Regions from separate parts of the Homo sapiens genome. Here all the other regions are linked to region 3. Evidence: fine-mapped expression QTL. A gene starts in region 3. Each other region holds a variant in brackets. All regions are shown on one strand. Distances are from middle to middle. Region 1 has its middle 30 kb from the start of LINC02210. Region 2 overlaps ARHGAP27 (Rho GTPase activating protein 27). Region 3 holds the start of ARHGAP27 (Rho GTPase activating protein 27).

Evidence for each region. PIP is the estimated chance that this variant, and not a neighbour inherited with it, causes the effect.
Region 1: its variant is fine-mapped to the expression of ARHGAP27 in whole blood (TOPMed, PIP above 0.99).
Region 2: its variant is fine-mapped to the expression of ARHGAP27 in whole blood (TOPMed, PIP above 0.99).

Annotation. Positions count from the first base shown.
Region 1 is chr17:45,586,576-45,594,749 of GRCh38, reverse strand. It overlaps the pseudogene DND1P1. Among named protein-coding and RNA genes, the nearest start is that of LINC02210, 30 kb to the left of the region's middle. The variant C/T (reference allele first, on the strand shown) is at 4,189.
Region 2 is chr17:45,393,607-45,401,780 of GRCh38, reverse strand. ARHGAP27 (Rho GTPase activating protein 27) reads left to right here. Exons shown (of 20, transcript NM_001282290.2): 13 at 3,734-3,832; 14 at 4,757-4,865; 15 at 4,991-5,113; 16 at 5,196-5,294; 17 at 5,497-5,574; 18 at 5,664-5,798; 19 at 5,932-6,037; 20 at 6,148-7,873. The coding sequence ends at 6,325. Among named protein-coding and RNA genes, the nearest start is that of ARHGAP27, 35 kb to the left of the region's middle. RefSeq lists a silencer at 5,872-6,029 and an enhancer at 6,661-7,320. The variant G/A (reference allele first, on the strand shown) is at 4,684.
Region 3 is chr17:45,429,393-45,437,566 of GRCh38, reverse strand. It overlaps ARHGAP27 (Rho GTPase activating protein 27), which reads left to right and starts at 4,697. Exons shown (of 20, transcript NM_001282290.2): 1 at 4,697-4,815; 2 at 5,218-5,351; 3 at 5,815-5,946; 4 at 7,270-7,944. The coding sequence starts at 7,288. PLEKHM1 (pleckstrin homology and RUN domain containing M1) reads left to right here. Exons shown (of 12, transcript NM_014798.3): 12 at 1-1,667. RefSeq lists enhancers at 1,075-1,728, 6,912-7,412, 7,413-7,913.

The DNA of each region.
Region 1 (8,174 bases), 160 kb before region 3:
AGTCCCGTGGTTCTCAACTGGGCCAATTTTGCTCCCCAAGTGACATTTGGCAATATCTGGGCAGAGGTCAAGGACGCTGCTTAACATCTTTTTTTTTTTTTTTGAGACACAGTTTTGCTCTTGTTGCCCAGGCTGGAGTGAAATGGCACGCTCTCGCCTCACTGCAACCTCTGCCGGGTTCAAGCGATTCTCCTGCCTCAGCCTCCCGAGTAGCTGGGATTATGGGCATGCACCATCACGCCTGGCTAATTTTGTATTTTTAGTAGAGATGGGGTTTCTCCATGTTGGTCAGGCTGGTCTCAAACTCCCAACCTTAGGTGATCAGCCCGCCTCAGCCTCCCAAAGTGCTGGGATTACAGGTGTGAGCCACCTCACCTGTCCTGCTTAACGTCTTAAAACACACAGGACAATTCCCCCATAAAAAAATGATGACCAGCCAAAAATGTCAACAGTATCAAGGTGAAGAAATTGCCATAAAGGCTTGGTAAACAGGGATGGTATGACGACACTATTGATAGGCCACATTAAAATACTTAGGGCCATATCCATTATCCCTGTTTTTATGATTTCTTCTTTGTCCCCATGCAGTTTCAGGGGCAAAATAAGGGAGTAAGTCAAAGGTGGTTCCAAATAGACATCTGGGAATCTTAGGGTGTAATATGGCCCTCATGGAGGCCCTTGCTGAGCTTAGGGCCTGATTCTGGAATCCTAGCATTGCCAAGAGAGGCAGGCTGGCAGGTGAGAAGACAAATAATGGGAGAGCCCACATATGTTGGAATTCATTTGATGGTATCTAAGCTGGGGTGATTGTCCCCACTAGCATTACATGACTATGGATCCAGTTATTTGGAGAAATCCATTTCCTCCACAGGGAATATATGCTACATTAGAACCAAAGATGGAATCCTTAGTAAATGGAATCATTTGGCAAAATTCAGTTGTCTGAAATTTTTGCATAAAATTCTCTTTTTTATTTTCATTGAGCCAAATAAATAAAGTATCAGGTATTTACTAGGGTCACCATTCTTTGATTCATTGATTTTTTTTTTCAGACAGGATCTTGCTCTGTCACCCACGTTGGAGTGCAGTGGCATAATCTCAGTTCACCGCAACCTCCACTTCCTGGGCTTAAGTGATTCTCCCGCCTCAGCCTCCCAAGTAGCTGGAAATACAGGTGTGTGCCACCATGCCCGGCTAATTTTTGTATTTTTTGTAGAGATGGGTTTTCATCATGTTTCCCAGGCTGGGTTTTTTTTTTTTCAAATGTCTTAGGGTTTTCGCTTTATTATTTCCTTGATATCCACAGCAGAAGTTCAGAGGTATAACTTCAACATTAACAGGTGAAAAGTTCTACAATGACTCGTTGCACTCCATCACATTAGAATAATTGAACTATAATTTCCATACAACACAAGAAAACTACAGTATTTAGTGACAACTGAAAGATACCTGATAAATAAATATATCAACTTACTACTCATGAAAAGAATGGAGCTGGTTATTTCAGCTATAAAAGGGCAAAGCAAAAAGACCATTTTCTAGCCATTTGAAAGTTACTCAAAAAATTGATACAATGGAATGGAAAGGAAAACAAAAAAGATTGTAAGCAACTTTAACAATGTTCTTGCATTCTACTGATACACAAACCTCTAGGGTTTCAGTTGACACAATCAAGTTCAACTTGTACTGACAGAAAATATTAAAAACCTTCCTATTGAGTTTTTAATATCAAACAGGGAGGTTAGTAAATTGTTTTCTGATTCTTCTACAAAAAAAAAGTCTAGAAGAGGGACAGGGAATGTAGTGTGCACCACTTATTATTATTCTAAGTAATAATTTTTACTTACGAGGTCAACACGAGTGCAAAGGGCTTAGTGATGCATCTTATTCTTTAATTTTGGACAGTAACACCCTCAGATGGTATTTTTATTGGTTTGTTTTATATCCCCCTTTTCCATTTGCCCTTCTGTTTTGAAGTGCTTTTTCTTAAAACTTAAGTTCTTTGCCTCCATTTTCTTATAAACCCAATTTCCTCTTTAGTGCAACTCTACCATTTGAAAGGAACCTTTCTATTGTAATTTACAAGCTGTGAATAACCGCTATGTAATTCTTTCCAAGGATTAATAAACTGAGAGATGATTTGAACCAACAGAGGTAGGGAAAGATTAGAAGGGGGATGCAAGTAGCCACAGATCTTAGAGGCGGCCAGCAGAGGGCGCTGCTCCAAGGTGAAGGTTGCACCCTGAGAGGCCATCCTTTTTTGTAGGACCAGACTGGGGTGTAAGGACAGTGCCTCATCCTCACAACGACAGACCTGTGTTCTGGGTGTGGATTTGCCTCCCTTGCCTGCGGGACTTCTGCTAGCACTGCCGTTCCTAGACTTAGACCATGCTAGAATGAGTCCAGGAACCGAGGAGAGGAGATGGGAGTGGCTCCTCCCACTGTGGCCCCTAATAATTCACATGAAGAATTTTTGCTTTCCTTGCCAGGGACCCGGGACTCAGTGGGTCCAGAGGTCCTAGTGCCAAAGGAAGAAATGTGTAGATCAGGAAATACTATTATGGTTTTATTCAACTGGAAGCCGAGGCTGGCCATTTATTGTATGTATTTATTTATCTATCTATTTATTTATTTATTTATTTATTTATTTTGAGACAGAATCTCACTCTTGTTTCCCAGGCTCCCAGGCTCAAGAGATCCTCCTACCTTAGCCTCCTGAGTAGCTGGTACTACAGTCGCATGCCACCTTGCCCAGCTAATTTTTTTTCTTTTTTTTTTTTTTTTTTGAGACGCAGTCTCATTTTGTTGCCCAGGCTAGAGTGCAGTGGCGCGGTCTTGGCTCACTGCAACCTCCACCTCCTGGGTTGAAGCGATTCTCCTGTCTCAGCCTCCGGAGTAGCTGGGATTACAGGCATGTGCCACCGCGCCTGGCAATTTTTTTTTTTAGTAGAGGCGGGGTTTCACCATGTTGGCCAGGCTGGTCTCAACTCCTGACCTTGTGATCCGCCTGCCTCAGCCTCCCAAAGCGCTGGGATTGCAGACATAAGCCACCGCGCCTGTTTTTTTTTTTGTTTTGTTTTGTTTTCTGACAGAGTCTCTGTCACCCAGGCTGGAGTGCAGTGGTGTGATCTCAGCTCACTGCAACCTCTGCCTCCTGGGTTCAAGCGATTCTCCTGCCTTAGCCTCCCAAGTAGCTGGGATTATAGGCGCACGCCACTATGCCCAGCTAATTTTTGTATTTTTAGTAGAGGTGGGGTTTCACTGTATTGGCCAGGCTGGTCTCAAACTCCTGACTTCAGGTGATCCACCCACCTCGGCCTCCCAAAGTGCTGGGATTATAGGTGTGAGCCATCAAGCCCAGCCCTGCCCAGCTAATTTTTACACTATGGGCAAGTATGCTGCCCAAGAGTGCTCTGGAACTCCTGGGCTCAAGTGATCTTCCTTCCTCGGCCTCCCAATGTGCTTGGATTACAAGCATGAGCCACCTTGCCCAGCCGAAGCTGGCCATTTAAAGTTCCTCATGCTGCTGAATCAATAAGGATGGAAGGCGGCTACTATTATGGGCTAAGTGTTTGCATCCTCCCCAAATTCTTTTTTTTTTTTGAGATGGAGTTTTGCTCTTGTTGCCCAGGCTAGAGTGCAGTGGCGCGATCTCTGCTCACTGCAACCTCCACCTCCCAGGTTCAAGTGATTCTCCTGCCTCAGCCTCCCGAGTTAGCTGGGATTACAGGCATACGCCACCACACCCGGCTAATTTTGTATTTTTAGTAGAGATGGGGTTTCTCCATGTTGGTCAGGCTGGTCTCAAACTCCCGACCTCAGGTGATCTGCTGACTTCAGCCTCCCAAAGTGCTGGGATTACCGGCATGAGCCACCACGCCCAGCCCCCAAATTGTTTTTTTTTTTTTTTTTTTTTGAGACGGAGTCTTGCTCTGTCACCCAGGCTGGAGTGCAGTGGCATGATCTTGGCTCACTGCAAGCTCTGCTTCCCGGGTTCACGCCATTCTCCTGCCTCAGCCTCCCGAGTAGCTGGGACTACAGGCGCCCGCCACCACGCCTGGCTAATTTTTTGTATTTTTAGTGGACACGGGGTTTCACCGTGTTAGCCAGGATGGTCTCGATCTCCTGACCTCGTGATCTGCCCGCCTCGGCCTCCCAAAGTGCTGGGATTACAGGCGTGAGCCACCG[C/T]GCCCCGCCTCGACCCCCAAATTCTTATGTTGAAGCCCTCACCTCCATGTGATGGTATTAGAAGGTGGGGTCTTTGGGACGTAATTAGGCTGACAGTGCCCCATGATGGGATGAGTGTCTTAAAAGAAAAGACCAGGTGGTCTGGCTAGTGGCTCACCCCTGAAATCTCAGCACTTTGGGAGAAAAGACCAGGTGGTCTGGCTAGTGGCTCACCCCTGAAATCTCAGCACTTTGGGAGGCCAAGGTGGGTGGATCACTTGAGATCAGGCGTTTGAGACCAGCCTGGGCAATATGGTGAAAAGCCATCTCTACTAAAAATACAAAAATTAGCTGGGCGTGGTGGCGCAAGTCTGTAATCCCAGCTACTTGGGAGGCTGAGGTGGGAGAATCGCTTGAACCCGGGAGGTGGAGGTTGCAGTGAGCCCAGATCATGTCATTGCACTCCAGCCTCCAGCCTGGACAGAGAGAGCATCTGAGAGTCTCTGTCTCAAAACAAAAAGAAAAAAAAAAAAAAGAAGAGACCAGAGAGCCTTTCTTCTCTTTGTCCACCAAGTGAAGATATAGCAAGAAGGCAGCCATCTGCAAGCTAGGAAAAGAGCCCTTGCCAGCACCCAATCATGCTATCACCCTGATATGGGACTTCCCAGCCTCCAGAACTGTGAGAAATCAATGTCTGTTGTTTAAGCCACCCAGTATGTAATAGCAGCCTGAGCTAACTAAAACCATCACCGAACTAGCCTCTTTACCTATGATTAGCAAGAGGAAAATGGCTCTGTTACTTAGTAGAGGAAGGAGGCTATGTCTGAAAGCCAAAAATTCACTGGGGACACATCTTAGCAGGCTCTTGACCCTAAGACCTGGTTAATGGAAAAGTAGAGCAACCCAATAAAAACAAGACCACCAAGAAGTCAGGTCTTATGGAATAAAGTATTGAGTGTCCCTATGAGGCACAGAACCCTTCGAAAGGGGATTGGAAGAAGTGGTGGAAGAAGGCGGCTATGATTATCAACTTAGACTTCATCGCCATTTGTAGAAGGAGGCTTCTAACAGCTATGTTTTATGTTAATTGGCTCTTTTCTTTTTTCTTTCAACCTTATATTAAGAGCACTGGCAGAAGCTAGCGGTTTTGGTATCCTGTAATTATTAGTTGTATAACCTTGGCCAAGTAACTCAACCTTTCTGTGCCTCAGTTACTCATCTGTAAAACAGGGTAATAAGTCTCAACCTCGTACTTATGTTGTTATAAAGATTTAACACTAGGCTGGGCATGGTGGCTCACACCTGTAATCCCAGCACTTTGGGAGGCCGAGGAGGGTGGATCACCTGAGGTCAGGAGTTCAAGACCAGACTGGCCAACATGGCAAAACCCTGTCTCTACTAAAAATACAAAAAATTAGCTGGGTGTGGTGGCACGTGTTTGTAATCCCAGTTACTCGGGAGGCTGAGGCAGGAGAATTGCTTGAACTAAACCTGGGAGGCGGAGGTTGCAGTGAGCCAAGATCGTGCCACTGCACTCTAGCCCAGGCAACAGAGTTAGACTCTGTCTCAAAAAAAAAAAAAAAAAAAAAAAAATTAACACTTTGAACAAAAAAGAAAAAAATAATAAAATTTAAAAAAGATTTAACAATTGGGCCAGGCATGGTGGCTCATGCCTGTAATACCAGCACTTTGGGAGCGTGAAGATGGAGGATTACTTGAACCCAGGAGTTCCAGACCAGCCTGGACAACAAAGCAAGACTTTGTTTCTACTTTAAAAAAAAAAACCAAAGTCAGGTGTGGTGGTACACACCTGTGATCCCAGCTACTTGGGAGGCTGAGATGGGAGGATCCCTTGAGCCTTGGAGGTTGAGGCTGCAATGAGCCATGATCATACCACTGCACTCCAGCCTAGGCGACAGAGTGAGGCCCATGTCAAAAAAAAAAAATTATCCCCAACATTTAGCAGCTTAAAACAAAAAACATTTATTATATCACACTTTCTGTGGGTCAGGAATCTGGGAGGGACTTAGCTGGGTGGTTCTGCTCAGTTCTCTTGGGATGTTTCAGTCAAGCAGTGGCCTGGGGCTGCACTCTTATCTGAAGACTCAATTGGGAGAAAATATGCATTCAAGGTCACTCGTTGGTTGTTGGCAGGCTGTAGTTCCTCACTGAATATTGGTTGAAGACTTCATTGGCTTACTACCTGGACTTCTCCACACACTGCCTGAATGTCCTCCCCACATAGCTAGAGTGAATGAACTAAAAAAGAGAGAGAACACACACAGCCCAGGTAAGAGTTCAGTCTTTCTAAGTCATTATATGAAAAAGATTCTTTTTTTTTTTTTTTGAGATGGAGTCTCGCTCTGTCGCCAGGCTGGAGTGCAGCAGCACGATCCCAGCTCACTGCAACCTCTGCCTCCCGGGTTCAAGTGATTCTCCTGCCTCAGCCTCCCAAGTAGCTGGGATTACAGGCGTGTGCCACTATGCCCAGCTAATTTCTGTACTTTTAATAGAGACGGGGTTTCACCATGTTGGCCAGGATGGTCTTGATCTCTTGACCTTGTGATCCACCCACCTTGGCCTCCCAAAGTGCTGGGATTACAGGAGTGAGCCACCGCTCCTGGCCGAAAAAGATTCTTGCACACACATGTTTATAGTAGCACTATTCACAATTGTAAAAATGTGGAACCAACCCAAATGCCCATCAATGAGTGGCTAAAGAAACTGTGGTATAGATATACAGTGGAATACTACTCAGTCATAAAAAGGAATGAATTAATGGCATTTGCAGCAACCTGGACGGGATTGGAGACTATTATTCTTGTTTTTTTTTTTTTTTTTGAGATAGAGTCTCACTCGGTCACCCAGGCTGGAGTGCAGTTGCGCAATCTTGGCTCACTGCAAGCTCTGCCTCCTGGGTTCACACCATTCTCCTGCCTCAGCCTCCCAAGTAGCTGAGACTACAGGCGCTTGCCACCATGCCTGGCTAATTTTTTTTTTTTTTTTTGTATTTTTAGTAGAGACCGGGTTTCACCATGTTAGCCAGGATGGTCTCGATCTCCTGACCTCGTGATCCACCCGCCTCAGCCTCCCAAAGTGCTGGGATTACAGGCGTGAGCCACCGCACCCGGCCTTTTTTTTTTTTTTTTTTTTTTTTTTACTAACCAGGGGTTTAATATAAATACAACCAGCATAGAAAGACCCAAAACTATACAGAAACCAAAACCAGAATGCCATGTGGTGGAGGCAAAGGGCATAATTCCTGACCCCTTTGGCTCAGCTGCCCTTCCCCACAAATAAAAACCAACAAACAGGACAAATCAGGACAATAAAGAAGATTCATGCTAAGCTGTGGCAGAGGGGGGAAGGTATGATCGGGTGGGGGTGGGACAAGGAATGGCCAGGGAAGATAACTGGGTCAGGTTGGACCCTGGGCTGGGAGGGGGAGGGCAAGGCCCATCACCACAACTTAAGCAAAACCTAAGCTGCCCCCAGGTGCCATAGGTCCCTGTCCCAGCAGGGAGGCTGATGGGCCTGGGCCCATGCCCCTCCCCACCTTTGGGGGTCAGATAGTGGCCACCCAGGTCTGCTGGGTTGGGGCCTGACACAGGCTGTGCATGCCCATTCGGGCTGCCTGTGGAGAGAGAATGGAGTCACTGTTTAACCATGCTACCTGCCTCAGCCCCAGCAGACCACAGGAGGTTGGCCCCAGACTCAATGAGTGCCTGCAGCAGCCGTACAGACACAGCATCCTTGGCCACCTCATGCCCATCCCGGCCATCTAGGATCAGCACAACCCAGATGAGGCCGCTGAAGGGCACCGGATGCCCAGGAATCACCACCTGGTACCAGAAGCGGTGCCAGCCAGCAGGTCCTATGCCCAAACACTTGGTGAGGAACACAGAGCTGCCCAGCTTCATTCGTTGGCACAGCAACTGCAGGGTAGCCCGAGCCCCTTGGGACCCTAACTTGTCCCTTGCCAAGGCCAACTGGCTGCCGTCTGGCTG
Region 2 (8,174 bases), 36 kb after region 3:
GGGCTATCAGGTGCATGTCTCTTTGTTGTTGAACAAATAATAAAACCCACCCAGATGTTGAGGGAATCAAAGCTTTTTCCTAACCCTTCACTCTTAAATTTCTTGTATGTAGCTCCATGAACATGGGATCTAGAAGCACATGCCAGGTACCCTGCAAAACAGCTCCAGGAAGGTTTAATTCAGGATCCGGGACTGCTTCAGGTAGCATCATTATGATGAAGGCCAAGAGCATGACCTCATGTCTAAGCTCAGAAAAAACAGTTCTGCAAGGAACCTGAGAGTGTAGTTTCCTGATTATTCACCAAGCTCCATTCAGTTCTAGAGCCAGGATATCTATAAAGCAAAGTTGGAAAACTGGTTTCATCTCATGAGCTACTCTGATGAGTAGGTCTGGAGTCTTGTGGGGTTTTGTTTTTGTTTTTATTTTTTGTTTCTGTTTTTAGAGACAAGGTCTTGCTCTGTTGCCCAGGCTGAAGTGCAGTGGCACGGTCAGAGCTCACTGAAACCACAAGCCCCTGGGCTCAAGCGATCTTCCCACCTAAGGCTTCCGAGTAGCTAGGACTACAGGCGCGTTCCATCACATCTGGCTAATTTTAGTTTTTATAGAGATGGGGGCTCACTATGTTGCCCAGGCAGGTCTCAAACTCATGGCCTCAAGTGATCCTCCAGCCTTGGCCTCCCAAAGGGTTGAGATTACAGGTGTGAGCCACTGTGCCTAGCCTGGAGCCTTCTTGAGAAGAATTCTGAAGGCTTCTCTGGGCTTGGCAGGATAGAGTTCTGTGATCAACTAACAATATCTGCTATGGTGTTAAATTGAGGAGAGACATCACTATTATGATTATGATTATGATTATGATTATGATTATTATCCAGAGTCTCACTCTGTTGCCCAGGCTGAAGTGCAGTGGTGCAATCTTGGCTCACTGCAACCTCTGCCTCTCGGATTCAAGTGAGTCTCCTGCCTCAGCGTCCCGAGTAGCTGGGACTACAGGCGCCTGCCACCATACCCGGCTAATTTTTTTGTATTTAGTAAAGACAGGGTTTTACCATGTTGGCCAGGATGGTCTCAATCTACTGGCCTCAGGTGATTTACCTGCCTTGGCCTCCCAAAGTGCTGGGATTACAGGTGTGAGCCACCATGCCCGGTCTGAGACATCACCTGTGCTAGTCATGTTTCTCCCCTGACTTTGAGGGATAGGTATATCCTTCAAACAGTTCTCAATGAAGATCATCACTGATGGACTTTTGATGAAAGTTTCAGAATAGGGCTTTTTGAGTTGTCTTTGCTGGCAAGGACTGGAAGGCAGGTGCTGCTCAGGCCAGTGGGAAGGTGGGCAGGCCTGAATGGAAATCACAAGCCCCTGCCTCCTGGTTGACTGCTGGCCATCCTCCCTCCATGCAGGGCGGCCTGTAGGCAGCTCCAGGGTTTTCCTCAAGAGACAGCCCCAAATTTTATATCATTGAGGATGGATGGCTTTGTTGGGCCCAGGAAATTTTCACAGCAGGTCTTTCTAGTCACCCCGAGTTACAGAAAACTTCAGCAACAGTCCGCCAAAAGCTGCTAGCATTTGCCTGTGCGGTCAGCAGGATAAATGTTTTGTTTATTTGTTTGTTCTTAGAGATAGGGTCTTACTGTGTTGCCCAGGCTGGAGTGCAGTGGCTTGATCGTAGCTCACTGCAGCTTCCAACTCCTGGACTGAAGTGATGCTGTCACTTCAGCCTCCCCAGTAGCTGGAAGTACAGGTGCACACTAGCATGTCTGGCTAATTTGTAAAAATTTTTCTAGATATAGGGTCTCACTATATTGCCCAGGATTGAACTCCTGGTCTCAAGGACTCCTCCCACCTTGCCCTTCCAAAGCACTAGGATTATGGGCATGAGCCGTTGTGCCTGGCTGGGGGTGAATATTTTGTGAAATACATTGCTATGTAATGATACAGCTTTGCCCTCTATATGAAACTTGCAAATATGAACTGATTATGTTTTGAGAGAGCTGCCAAAAATCATGGCTGTTGTTTTAGAAGTGTTGTCAAGCCATTCTCTGGGATAATCTTGAGCAGGGCTCTTGTCTGCTTTGATTAGAGTGAGGCTGTGTTATCTGCCTCTTGAAGGTTCTCTGTCCTTTGCAGGGGAGGGCTAGGGGATGAGATATGCCATTTTCTTTTCTTTTCTTTTCTTTTCTTTTCTTTGAGACAGAGTGTTGCTCTGTTGCCCTGGCTGGAGTGCAGTGGTGCGATCTCGGCTCACTGCAATCTCTGCCTCCCGGGTTCAAGCGATTCTCCTGCCTCAGCCTCCCGAGTAGCTGGGACTACAGGTGCGTGCCACCAGGCCCAGCTAATTTTTTGCATTTTTAGTAGTGGCAGGGTTTCACTGTGTTAGCCAGAATGGTCTCCATCTCCTGACCTCATGATCCACCCGCCTCAGCCTCCCAAAGTGCTGGGATTACAGGCATGAGCCACTGCGCCCAGCCTCATTTCATTTTAAAAAGCAGTTTAAATAGTCTTCAAGTATAAGTTTAAAAGGACAGCAAAGATAGTCCAATCCAATTCTAGAAGTTGTGTCCTGGGGTCTGAGACAGTTTCTGTTGTCTCTGACTCTCGCTGAACCAAAAGGGCAGGGTTGGTGTGAGCTGTTGCCGCCAAACATTCACATTAACCTGGAACACTGGGTCCTCAGAGCCAGAGGCTGATAAGGAATCCAACTAAGCTGCCATCCAACTCAGAAAGGGCTTTGAGCGTCAGTCCTATGGTGGCAAGTTTCCCTCTGGTGTTCTGTTTAATTTATGCTTCATGATGAAGCGGGCTAACAGAAGATGTGTTGCCCAGGCTGGAGTGTGGGAGGTGGTGGGGACTCCTGGCTGCAGAAGGTGGGACAACGTTTCTGAGTCCTCAGTGTGTGTATGGGGAGGGGCAAGGGGAGACCTTTCTTTCCCTGGGATCAGCCATGATCAGCTTTCAAATCCTCTCTCCCTATATTCACTGTTGCTTCTAGTAGACAGGGGTCTCAACATAGGAAGTTTCTGGGTTTTGTTTTGTTTTTTTTTTTTTGAGACGGAGTCTTGCTCTGTCGCCCAGGGTGAAGTGCAGTGGCATGATCTCGGCTCACGGTAACCTCCGCTTCCCGGGTTCAAGCAGTTCTTCTGCCTCAGCTTCCCAAGTAGCTGGGATTACAGGAGCCCGCCACCATGCCTGGCTAATTTTTGTATTTTTAGTAGAGACGGGGTTTCACCATGTTGGCCAGGCTGGTCTCAAACTCCTGACCTCATGATCTGCCCGCCTCGGCCTCCCAAAGTGCTGGGATTACAGGTATGAGCCATCGTGCCTGGCCTCACATAGGAAGTTTCTTTCACTTAGTTTGCAGGCCAGTGCTCTGCATGAGGCCTGCCATGTTCTGTGGCTTGCAGGGAGGCAGGATGGGGGAGGGAAAGTGTACCAGACAATTGAGCCATGCAGCTCTGTGCTCATCACTCACTAGCTGTGTGCCCATGAGGAAGCAGCTAAAACTTGCTGAGCCTCAGTTTGCTCATCTGTAACACAGAGATGCTGTCAGCCACTGCTTTACGTGAGGCAGAGATCCAAGACTTAGCCTGGGGTGAGGCCCTTGCTCCATTAAGCTCTGAGTGCCTGGGGGCAGGGACAGGTCACCTCTATCTCTGTACCTACCCCCAACTAGGGCCAACCCCCAGGGCAGACCCAGGGTACCAGAGATGACCCACTGACTTGTGTCCCTCCAGCTACGGAGCCGAGATGGCTCTGAGTACCTGATCCAGCACGACTCGGAGGCCATCATCAGCACCTGGCATAAGGCCATTGCTCAGGGCATCCAGGAGCTGGTAAGCAGAGCCCAGGGCCTCTAGGGGCAGTGGGGAGGGGGTGGCCATTATGAGTGGGGCCCTCTGCTCAGGCTCAGGGAGCTCTAAGGTACCAGTGGGTAATGCAAATGCAGTCCCCACTAATGGCTAGGATGGCAGGGTAGGCGGCTGAAGAAACTGCCTTCTGTAAGTCTGTGAATCCAGCCCTGGGGTTGGCCCTGCAGGAAGACTCTCCAGGTGAGGGTAGGGCACATTCTAAAGGAAGTTCCCATTTCACGGGAGGCAGAAGGCCAAATAAATACTCTGCAAGCCAACCAATGGCAGGCTGAAACTAGCAGATAAAATTTTAAAGGATTGATTTCAATAGTCGACCATTTTTTTAAGGCTGAAAACACCAATTGCATAAGTAGAGCTAGGACAGGGGCCCTCTGACAACTACTGACCTGGAAATGACCTGGGGCTTTTTGACCCTTAATTCCCTATGAGCCAACATTGAGTGAAGCTTTTGGCTGTATTAATAGAGGTAGGAATCCAGAGCCAGAGAGGTGATATTGGTGCAGTTGTTGGCAGTGCTCCGGCCACAGCTGGAGGTGCAGGCTCAGAACTGGGAGCCACGTATTGAGGAATGCTGACCCAGTTAGAGGAGCTGAGGAAAATAGAGAAAGAAGGCACCAGGTGGGTAGGAGTCCCCAGGATAGGAAGGGGTGTGGGAGAACAGGATGACTGTCTCTGCACCTTAAGGGCTCCATGCAGCTAAGGGAGGTGAATGTTCTCAGGCTCACTGGTGGAGGTAAGGAGAGTTAACCTGGTTAAGGGAAGAGAGGACTCTTCGCTGAGGGTCTCCAGGCCATGCCTGTTGGGAGTGCATTTCG[G/A]GTCCCTTGCCCCATCCTGGAAGGACCCGCAGCTGGCTCAAGGCCCCGCCTCTCTGAGGCTATGGGAATCCAGTCCGCAGAGCTGCCCCCAGAGGAGAGCGAGAGCAGCAGAGTGGACTTCGGGTCGAGCGAGCGCTTGGGAAGCTGGCAGGAGAAAGAGGAGGACGCGCGACCGAATGCAGGTGTGCGCAAGGCAGGATGGGGTGGGGGCTCCAGGAGGCCTCTCCTGGGGAGTGACGGTTGCTGGGGCCTGCCTGGCCTGCCCTGGCGCTGCCTCCTGACTCAGTCCTGCCTTTCCCCGCGGCAGCCGCGCCCGCCCTGGGCCCCGTGGGCCTGGAGAGCGACTTGAGCAAGGTCCGGCACAAGCTCCGCAAGTTCCTCCAGAGGCGGCCCACACTGCAGTCGCTGCGGGAGAAGGGCTACATCAAAGGTACCCGAGGCCTGCGGGGGGCGGGGACCCGGGACCGGGACGGGGCGCAGGCTGGGCAGGAGCTGATGAGCCTCTGCCCTAGACCAGGTGTTCGGCTGCGCGCTGGCCGCGCTGTGTGAGCGCGAGAGGAGCCGGGTGCCACGCTTCGTGCAGCAGTGCATCCGCGCCGTCGAGGCCCGCGGTACGTGCGCTGCGGGGGTGAGGGCGGCAGGCATTGGGGTGCCCGCAGGCCTCCTGCCAGGACCGCAGGCTGGAGACCCCTGGATGGACGCAGGGTCCAGGGGGAAAGTACGGGAGGCCCCGAGTGGGAGTCATAGCAGGGACCCGTAGCCCCACCCTATCCCCATCCCTGAACCCGGGATCAGCGCCTCCCTCTGGCCCAGGGCTGGACATCGACGGGCTGTACCGCATCAGTGGAAACCTGGCCACCATCCAGAAGCTACGCTATAAGGTGGACCACGGTGAGGCCCGTCCCCAACCCCTGCCCCAGGGCCTGAAGGCGCAAGGGGTACTGATTTCCCTTCCGTCCTCCTCCCTTCCTCCGCCACAGATGAGCGCCTTGACCTGGATGACGGGCGCTGGGAGGACGTCCACGTTATCACCGGAGCCCTGAAGCTCTTCTTTCGGGAGCTGCCCGAGCCCCTCTTCCCCTTCTCGCACTTCCGCCAGTTCATTGCGGCCATCAGTGAGCACCTGGGGCAGGTGGGGCGGATGGGGTAGGGGCGTGGCGGGGCACCCCTTTAGCAGGCTCCCCTCGCCCAGCCGATACCCCCTACCTCCCGTTCCGACTCCCTCCCTCTAAACCTTCCCTCACCCAGAGTTGCAGGACCAGGCCCGGCGCAGCCGCTGTGTGCGTGACTTGGTGCGCTCGCTGCCCGCTCCCAACCACGACACTCTGCGGATGCTCTTCCAGCACCTCTGCCGGTGAGCCGGGCGGCCCGCGCGGGAAGGGGGAGGCAGGTCCCGGCTGAAGCCCCCAGCGCCTCCCCGCAGTTCGCAGTTCGGAGCCCTGAACCCACCCACCCCTGCCACAGGGTGATCGAGCACGGCGAGCAGAACCGCATGTCGGTGCAGAGCGTGGCCATTGTGTTCGGGCCCACGCTGCTGCGGCCCGAGGTGGAAGAGACCAGCATGCCCATGACCATGGTGTTCCAGAACCAGGTGGTGGAGCTCATCCTGCAGCAGTGCGCGGACATCTTCCCGCCGCACTGACTGCTGGCCTGTGACTGGGGCGGCGGCCGCGGTCCTGCCACACAAGCTGGGCGGCGGAGGCCACGCAGCCGGGCCTTCTTCTCTCTGGGACCCTCCGCCAGCGCATAGCCGCAGGCCGGTGTGACTTCTGCACCCTCGGTTCTGAGGGTACGGTGACCCCTAGTGGGCAGTTTGCAAAATGTGATTCCTTCTTCCCAACTCCCCATCCCCCCTTCCCTTCCCGTCACGTCCTGTTTGGGGGTTAATTCGGTTTTTTCTCTGTTGCATCGCGCCTACTGTGCGTGTGCGATAGCGTGTGTGGGGGTGAGAGTTTGTTTTCTGGAATGGTAGGTGCTGGGAGGAGGAGTTTGATGGAGGGCTTCCTGGCTGCTTCTGGCCCTCACCTCGTGGAGGCCTTCACAGAGACCCTGTGGGCCCTGGCCCTGTGCTGGCACTGTGCCAGTCATGAGGCAGCTCTGATCACTTCCCCACTGTGGAAACAGGACTGACCCAGCCTTCAGTGTGGGCTGCTGAAGCTATCCTCCTCAGGCCTCAGGGATGACCTCCTGCCTGAGCCTCTCACAGGCTGGCTGTGGGCCAGTTTCATCTGCTTTCCTGTTGGGGGTCCCGGGCCTCTGCTGTCCTTGACCCACTGGTGTTCTGTGCAAGGCTTCTTCCCATTCACCAAGTGCACACCTTGCATCTGCCGCTCGGCATGCACCAGTTCCACACACCATCCCATTTTACAGACAAGGACGCTGAGGCCTGCAGCAGCAGTGTGACTTGCTCAAGGTCCAGTGAGTGACCTCATTCCCCAGAAAAGGCTCCTCCCACACCAGAGTACAGCCTGGGTAGGGGGAAAATCAGTTCTTTCAGCTACCACCCATCCAACCTTTGGGCCTATGTGAAAAGAAAGGAACTAAGCTGGGTGTGTTCTGTCTGGACCTGGGGAGGCCCCTGAAGGCAAAGAGGGAAACTGTCCCAGCTGTTCTGTCCTAGGGGAGGGGGACATAGCCCTAGCAGGAGCTCCCAGCCCCTCTTGGCACTCTGACACACAAGTACACCCATCTGGGGCCCGCTTTGCCACGAAGAGCTGGGCAGGCCTGCAGGGTGTGGGGAAGGAGGACACAACCTCAAGAAAGGAAGCGTGAACCCCAGGGAACAGCGGGTCCCTTCCCTCCTCAGACACAAGCCACCTCAGCTTGTGGCTCTTGGCCCCCAGCCCCACCAACCCACCTGTTCATTTATTCAACAGACAATGACAGCTGATATTTATTGGACATTTGCACCATGCCAAGCATTCGGCTTGGATTATCCCATTTGTTTCTCACAGCCGGTATTTATTGTCTGCTCCTCTGTGCCAGGTGCTGTGCTCTGGGCAGGGGCACTGCATGGGCTGCCTGCCCTGGTGGAGCTTGTGGTCTGATGGGTGAGGCTGACCCAAGCCCACCCCATTGCCAACAGGGCCAGGGCAAGAGTACACACAGGGGCCTCATACCATATGTCTAAATATTTAAAAGTTATCAATCAAGCTAACAACTGTTAAATAAAATATGTTCTATTCTCCTACTTTGACAAATGTGTCTTGATAATGACCTGGAAGGCCAGGTTCTAATTTAAACTTCTTTGACTTTTCCAAGTTCCATGCCCAAATGTGGTGGCCGGAGAAGGGCAGGCCCTGGGCTCAGCCTTCCCTCTCATCTTCCCTCCCACAGAGCCCTCCTCCCCCAAGCAGAGGCTCACGGGCACATATGTGGACATCGTAGTCCATGTGTGCCAACTGCCCATACCCCCTGCAGCCAGCTGCCGCTTGGCTACCCCACTGGTGACGTAGTCCACCCTTGAGGGAATGGGCTTGGAGCTATTTGGG
Region 3 (8,174 bases):
CCGGCGCCTCCGTTAGGGCTGCCCAAACACTGTGGAAAGGGGACTTGGGGAGCATTTTCAATTCCACATTCCTGATTAAAAGGTCTAGTTTTTTAAGGTGGGTTTTTCCCATTCATATTTCAACAGAAAGTATTTTTTTATTCTTGACCCTACGTGAGTCACCCATGAAATCCAGACATTCTCACCCCCAGCGGATGCACAGGAGCCACTCAGGCCTGGCTTAGAGGTAGCGGGTGGCTGGTGGGCAGGCCACTGCTGGGACAGGGTCTATGGGCCCACCCAGTGCCTTTCCTTGGCCCTCACTGCCAGTGCCAAACCGCCCCTCAGCAGGGCAGGGCCAGTCCTGGCGACCCCGGTTCCTCTGTGTCCTCTTTACTCCCCACCCCAGTGCGTCTCGCCTGCTGAGCCCACCGCTTTCTCAGCGTCAGAGCCCCTAGCTCTTCTCTAGCCTGGGGCCTTGGCCCCATTAGGAGAAGGAGAAATGACTGGAAACCAGCACTGTCAGCACTTTGAGCCCTCCTCGGTTTATGGAGGGTCGCCGTCTTGCCCACCCCCGATCCCCGTGCGCTCCTCACCCCTCTACAGACAGGGGCGCTGCTGCAGATGCTCCAGGCCCACCTTGGTGGGTGCCCGGGGTCACACTCTCTGCCTGACTGACCCCTGCCAGGGCACAGATAGGCAGGACCCCAGAGAGGGCAGGCAGCCACGCCCTGCACTGTGGAGAAGTGACCTGGTCCTAAGCTGTGCAGGGCGTGCGGGGGAACTGCCCTGTGGATGCAGCCACCACCTCACAAAGCCATGAATTCCCAAAGCATCACTGAACTTGCCCAGCCGGGACACTGGAGACTGAAGAAGTTCCCCGGAGCAGGACTGCCTTTGAAGGGGCCTTGGGGCTGGGGTGGGAGTCTGGAATTGTTTTCAAAGTGATGGTCAGACCCTCCAGGCTTCGGGGAAATGTGGGTTTGCTGGTCTCTCTGTCGCCTTCCCCCACCTCTCCTGGACCTAGCAGGCCCTCAGTCCTAGCTGTCTTACCTGCGCTCAGCTTGGAGTCAGGCCTCAGGTGGAGAGCCGCATGTCACTGTCAGAGATGAGCCCACCCCCACCCTTCCCTGGGGGCGATTAGCTGCTGAGTCACCCACCCAGCCTTGGAGCTGGATGCCTGTGCAGCAGAACAGAGGCAACGGTGGCAGGCAGGTGGAGGCTGCGCACAGCTTCTCCCGGTCATGGCACACACCTGTGCCCAGACGCCAATGCCTCCTAAGCCAGGAGCTGGGTTATGCACCGCCATGGCCCACATTAACGCTCCACCACAAGCCCAGCCTAGTCAGAGCCCTCATTGCCCCATCCCTGAGTGGGCAGGAGCCTGGCCTGGGGAGGGCTTGGGCCTGTGAGGATTCTCCCCGAAGGTGCCCTCGGAGGCAGCAGGTTTGAGGCCCTGGGGGGCCCGTTCCCCAGAAGCTGCCAGTGCTTTCAGATGCATTGACTCTTCCCGCCTCCCCTCCCTCAGAAAGGTAGTGCCCACACTATTTTTAAAATGTTATTTTATGCAATACACTGTTCCTAGTGAGCAGGGCTCTGGCCCTGAGGAGTCTTTGCAATGTATTGAAGGAATTGCTGCCGTGTGAGTTTTGAATGATTTTGCAGTAAAGACCTGATCTTTCTCATCACTGGTCTGGCTTCTGAATTCTAACACTGCCACGGCCAGGGGGGAGACCACCAGCCATCTGTTACCATCTGTCAGGGTCCCCTACCCTCATGTTAGTCCCTGGCACGGGGGAAGGCTTGGGAGGTCCGTGGCAAACACTTGTAGGCAGAGGGCTTGCATGCCAGGAGTGGGCAGGGAGAAGAGAGTAAGAAAACCACCTTGCCAAGCCCAGCAGTCAGGCTCTTCCTGGGGTAGGATCTCAGGGTCTCTGGGGAGGTGTACCCACACTTGTATAACAACTCAAGCTGATCCCACGCCGGTGGCTTCTTTTCCTGTGACTTAAATGTCAAAACACAGACCCTTGACACTGGATCATGTGAAACCTCAGGATACAGGGGACATTTCTCAGAGGAGAAATAAAGGAGAGATGGGGCTCAGGAAAGAAGGGTTATTTAAGTGGATCCCCCGATTCAGGGCTCATGGTTTTAGGGCTCAAAATGACTTTTACTTGGCTGCTGACCTTCCTCAGAAGTTCCAGGAGAAGCCCAGGGGACCCCTCCAAGGGGAGGCCCACACCACTGTCCATTTTAAGAACAGGAGCAGGAAACAGACTTAATTCTCAGGGAAATCAGGTTGCAGTAAAATGGGATGGAAACAGACAACATTCAGGTCTGAGATTTCCTGTCCTTAAAGGCCCCTTTCAGATTACAAGGTGGCACCCTCTGCCAATCTAGGTGCCCCAGCTTCCCCCAAGGGCTTCACCTCCCTCCAGGACAGTAGATGGTAGGCCCGGAGAAGAGAAGAGAAACTGGGAGAGGGAGGCCCAGAGGAGGGCCACAGCACGTGACCTGGTGCTGCCCTGCCGGTGGGTTCAGGCCCTCTCCAGCCTCAGCAAAGCGCCCCTGAGGCCACTTGTTTCCCCTTCTCCCCTCCCTTTTTTTTTTTTTTTTTTTTGGATACAGTCTCACTCCAATGCCCAGGCTGGAGTGCAGTGGCGTGATCTTGGCTCACTGCAACCTCCACTTCCCGGGTTCAAGCAATTCTCCTGCCTCAGCCTCCTGAGTAGCTGAGACTTCCCCTTTTCCTCTTCTCTCTGAAGGAGGACAGGTGGTTTGGAGATTCCAATCCAACCCCCAAGAGCTTATCATATAATGTAAGTAGTCATAATAGCTGATGTACCCCGGCATGGTGGCTCACACCTGTAATCCCAGCATTTTGGGAGGCCGAGGAGGTTGGATCATCTGAGGTCAGAAGTTCAAGACCAGCCTGGCCAACATGGTGAAACCCCGTCTCTACAAAAATACAAAAATTAACTGGGCATGATGGCGGGTGCCTGTAATCCCAGCTACTCAGGAAGCTGAGGCAGGAGAACCACTTGAACCCGGAGGCGGAGGTTGCAGTGAGCCAAGATCGTGCCGCTGCACTTCGGCCTGGGAGACAGAGTGAGACTCTGTCTTAAAAAAAATAGCTGATATATTGTGTGCGCTGGGCATGTGGTAAGCACTGCTTAGTGGACCTCATTTAATCTTCCCAATAATCCAGTGAAGTGGGTGTTACTATCCCATTGACAGGAAAGAAATCTGAGCTGCAGAGATAAGGCAGAACTCCCAAGGCCTACCAGCCGCCAAGCAGCAGAGTGGGGCATCATACCTGCCTGACCCCACGCAAAGACCATCACCACTGCCAGCCACTGCCTGGCTGTGCTGCAGGTGGAGAGGGACCTAAAAGGTAGGGAGGGAGAGAAGATTCCTCCAGCCACGATTTTCTTTTTTTCTTTTTTGGTTGTTGTTTTTTGAGACGGAGTCTTGCTCTGTCGCCCAGGCTGAAGTGCAGTGGCACGATCATGGCTCACGGCAGTCTCCGCCTCCCAGGTTCACACCATTCTCCTGCCTCAGCCTCCGGAGTAGCTGGGACTACAGGCTCCCGCCACCACGCCCGGCTAATGTTTTATATTTTTAGTAGAGACGGGGTTTCACCGTGTTAGCCGGGGTTTCACCGTGTTAGCCAGGGTTTCTCAATCTCCTGACCTCATGATCCGCCCGCCTCGGCCTCCCAAAGTGCTGGGATTATAGGCGTGAGCCACCGTGCCCGGCACCAGCCACTATTTTCTAAGCATGTCGGGCACCAAAGACCAGTGCTGAGTTCTGCTGTGTGCCCACCCTGGAGGGTCCCAAGGTGCCACCAAGGCTCAGACACACAGATTCTCAGAGGAAGTGTGGACTCACAGGTGGGCAATGCCTAGCAGAGGCAAAGATATAGAGGTAAGGGAGTTCCTTACTTACTATATCTTACAAAGATATAGAGGTAAGGGAGTTCCTTACTTACTATATCTTACAAAGATATAGAGGTAAGGGAGTTCCTCTGAATCTGGGTGGCCAGATTCAGCTTCCCACCCAACCCTGGGTCCCCAGGAGGTGGTGTCAAGAGAGGCCATGGCCTGGGATGCGGGCCCTTCTTCCTCCCAGAACACTGGCCTGAATCAGCCAGCTCTTGGCACACACAGCCAGGTCCACAGGCACAACTGTTCCTTGGGGCCCCTGAGGGCAGGGGGTGTGCTGGGGCTGTGGCTTGTAATGTCTGGAGTGAGTGCAGGCTCAGATCAGGGCGAGGCTGCTTGTCCAGAGAGGCAGAAAATTCTCCAACAGAAGACCCCCAAGGCGGAGGGCCCTGGGGCTGGACTCCTGGAGGTTGTTCTGAGCTTACCCTGTGGACGGATTGGAGGGTGGCCCTCCTTCCCCACAAGGATCAAGAGGGGGTGGGGGATGGTGGGAGGGCAATCTGGCCAGGCGAACCTGCGGGGGAGGCTCCCGCCCTCCCCAGTCCCACCATCTCAGCCCCGCAGCCTCTTTCTCCCTGGAGACAGCCAGGTGCGGCCCAGGATCCCGGGAAAGGCAGGGGAGGGGGTGGCGTCTTCGCTCCTCAGGCGCTGGCCCGGCCCAGAGGGGACAGGAAGCCAGGACACCGGGGATTGTCTCTCGCAACCGCAGCCCAGCCCCAGTCCGGGAGGAAGTTCTGCCCGGCGCTCTCCGCCGGTGCCTCCCTGGTTATATTGTTGAACAGGAAACCCGGCAGCGCGGGAGCCGCACAGTCGAGGAGGGAGCGCGGGACGCCGAGCCCACGCGCGCCTGCCGGGGCAAGTGGAGGCGAAGCCGGCGAGCGGACGCCCCGAGGTGCCCGGGCAGGCAGGGTCGGGAGTGGGGCGCCGAGCGGGGGTTGGGGGTGGGAAGTGGGGTGGGGGTGGGGAAAGGGCAGGGTTGGGAAGGGAAGGGTGCGGCAGGTGGCGGGTCCGCACCCGGGAGCTCCGCGCGCCTGCTCCCCTTGTCTCCGCGCTGGGGCGGGAGCTGCGCGGGCCGCATCCCACGGGGAGGAGAAGGTAGGCGAAGGGCTGCCCTCCATCTGGGGGCTGGAGGGAAGCAGGCCCAGGCCCCCAGCGCCGACCCAGGCGTTGACGCCCCTGTAGCTTGAGTCGCCTGGGCAGTGGACGCAGGGGACCTCCTGGCGACTGGTGCGCTGTCGCGCTCCAGGGATCCTCCCGGCTTCCCCAATCCCTCCCCTTCTCTGCGTTTCCCCAGGGTCGGGGAAGGAACCGAGGTCCGGTCCCCTTCTTATCCAGCCCGAGACATCGAGCTCCGGTGGGCGTCCCTGCGCTGGGAATCCCGCTCGGAGTTTTTCCAGGCCCGGCCGGGCTGCTCCGGGAAAGGCCCTGGTGAGGGAAGAGGTGGGCCCGGAGCGGGCGGATTTGCAATCCGGTTGGAAGGGCTCGCAGTGGGTGATTCAGGGTGCAAATGACCTCCCCGGGAACAGGAACGCCCGCACGAGACAACCAGCCCCAGCCCGGCATTCCCAGAGCCGCGCACAGGAGGGACGCAGGCACTCCCGGACAGCAAATCCCGGGGGGTGGGGGGTGGGGGGGCGGGGAATAGAGGGGGAAGGCGGAGCGGGGGCGGTCCCATCCTCCTTGGGCTCCGCTCGCGACCTGCCAGTGCCCCTTCAGACGCAGCAGTCCCGGCTCCAGGTGCCGGCCTTCTGCTCTGGGCCTCGTCCCAATGCCCCCCAAGGTCCCCAGCAGAGGCATTCAGGCTCCTCCTCGCCCCACCCAGACACGGCTGCTTTGGGTATCGGTGACAGCACTCCTGAGCGTCCCTGTCCCTCTTCGCTCTGCTTGCCAGCTCCTGTTCCGCGCAGCCTCTCCGGCCTCGCCCCTGGAAACCCCGCCCAGGGCGATGGTAGGGGCCTAACCTGCAGCCACCGCCGGCTCCGCCCACCCAGCCCATGGGCTCCCTGAGGCCCGCCCAGCCGACGTGAGTGCGCTGCGGGGTCCAAGGGGAGGGGGCGCCGGGGGAGTGTCCTGCTTGGGGTTTGTTGGTTCAGCACCGGGCAGCTCGATGACCCCGCCTCCGGGGCCCAGCGTGCTTAGTGACTCAGTTTACACCCTTTCCTCGTCGAGGAACGCTTGACAAAGTGGCGGAGGAGCCCTGCTGGGGCCCCCGTTGGAACCTGCTCCTCTGCCTCGGCAAGCGGCGGTCTCCTGGCCCCGGGTCCGGGCCACCTTAGGGGGCAGGAAGAGGTGTGGTCAGTGTGGGAGTTTGGAGGGGCCATGCACTTCCGGAGAAAACCGACTCATGGCTTTGGTGGAGGGGCGCAGACAGATTTAGTTAGGCTCTCCCCCATCCCTGACACCCCGAAGCCCGGGCGGGAGCGGGGCTTATGACCACCACTCCGGAGAGCTTTGGGTGGCCCTGCTCTGGGACTCCGCACTTATAGTCACTGTCTCAGAGTGCATTCTCCAGGAGCCACTCGTGGGGACACTGTAGGGGTCACAGGGCAGGTGGACAGGCCACAGGGGCAGGGCCTTTCTCGGGGGGCGGCGTGAGAGCTGGAGAGCAGGGGGCGGTGCGGGCCGGGCTGGGCGGGCCGGGCTCGGGCTCACGTCTGCGGTGATGCAGCTGGGGAAGGAAAGAGAAACCGAGAGAACCGGTTCCCCTGCATTGGCAGCGGAGGCCTCTACAGCAAGGCCCTCGGACTAAGGGGGGCAGCGACAGCCCCCAGGTAGAGCTGTTCGCTCGGCCCCCTACAGAGCCCACATTCCAACTCTGACCAGGGGGTCGGGGCGCAAGCTGCTGGAGGGAGGCAGTGCTACGAGACCCTCTGCTGATTCTCTGCGGGCGGGAGGCTTCCAGGCGGGACAGAGCCGGGGAGCGGCAGTAAATGGGGTGTTCTTCCTACTTGACTGACGGAAAACTAAGGCGCAGTCAACTATTAAGCAAGCGTGGTGTCGACCTTAGAGCGGGCAATCACCCCTCGTTTTAAAGCCAAGGCTTCCCTCGCAGTCGATTTGGACCAAGACTACCCACAATCTCCCCACCGCAGGACTGAAGCAAGGGTCAAATCTTAGAATCAACCCCACAGAACGAAGGGCTGTCCTAATTCCAGCACTGAGTGTAAGAATGGAAGCCTTACATGTGATTTTATGCAAGTTCCCATTTTAGAGATGGGAAAACTGAGGCCCGAAGGCGAACGGCGAGTGCAGGATCGGGACTCGAACCCAAGTCTGTCCCCGAGTGCGGGGCTATTCCAGGCTCGGTGGTCTTGACCTCCGCGGCCCTCCTTCTTGTTGCCCGCAGGAAAACGCCGCGGCTGCGATGGCGGCGGACGTGGTGGGGGACGTGTACGTGCTGGTGGAGCACCCCTTCGAGTACACCGGCAAGGACGGGCGCCGCGTGGCCATCCGGCCGAATGAGCGCTACCGGCTGCTGCGGCGCAGCACCGAGCACTGGTGGCACGTGCGGCGTGAGCCCGGCGGCCGCCCCTTCTACCTGCCTGCGCAGTACGTGCGCGAGCTGCCCGCGCTGGGCAACCCTGCCGCCGCCGCGCCGCCAGGTCCCCACCCGAGCCCCGCGGCCCCTGAGCCGCTCGCCTACGACTACCGGTTTGTGAGCGCGGCGGCGACCGCGGGCCCCGACGGCGCCCCCGAGGAGTCCGGAGGCCGAGCCAGCTCCCTGTGCGGCCCTGCGCAACGCGGCGCCGCGACCCAGCGCAGCAGCCTGGCGCCCGGCCTGCCAGCCTGCCTGTACCTGCGGCCCGCGGCGCCCGTGCGGCCCGCGCAGTCCCTGAACGACCTGGCCTGCGCCGCCGTCTCGCCTCCCGCCGGCCTCCTAGGAAGCAGCGGCAGCTTCAAGGCCTGCAGCGTGGCGGGCTCCTGGGTGTGCCCGCGGCCTCTGGCGCGCAGCGACTCAGAGAACGTCTACGAGGTCATCCAGGACTTGCACGTCCCGCCGCCGGAGGAGAGCGCAGAGCAGGTACCTCCCCGGGCGCTGGGGCGCGGAGGCGGGTGGCGCGCTAGGGACCGCGCCCGCACGGAGCCGGGGCGCAAGGAGACCCGCTCCGCTCAGCGTCGGGCACGACGCCCACCTCTGTCCGAAGACTTCGGATGAGCTCCCTCTCCCCAACCGCGAAACGTGAGGGGTGCACGCCCGCAGTCCCTCATCAGCAATTCCCAAGCTCCAAAGCTCCCTGGAAGCCCAGAGGC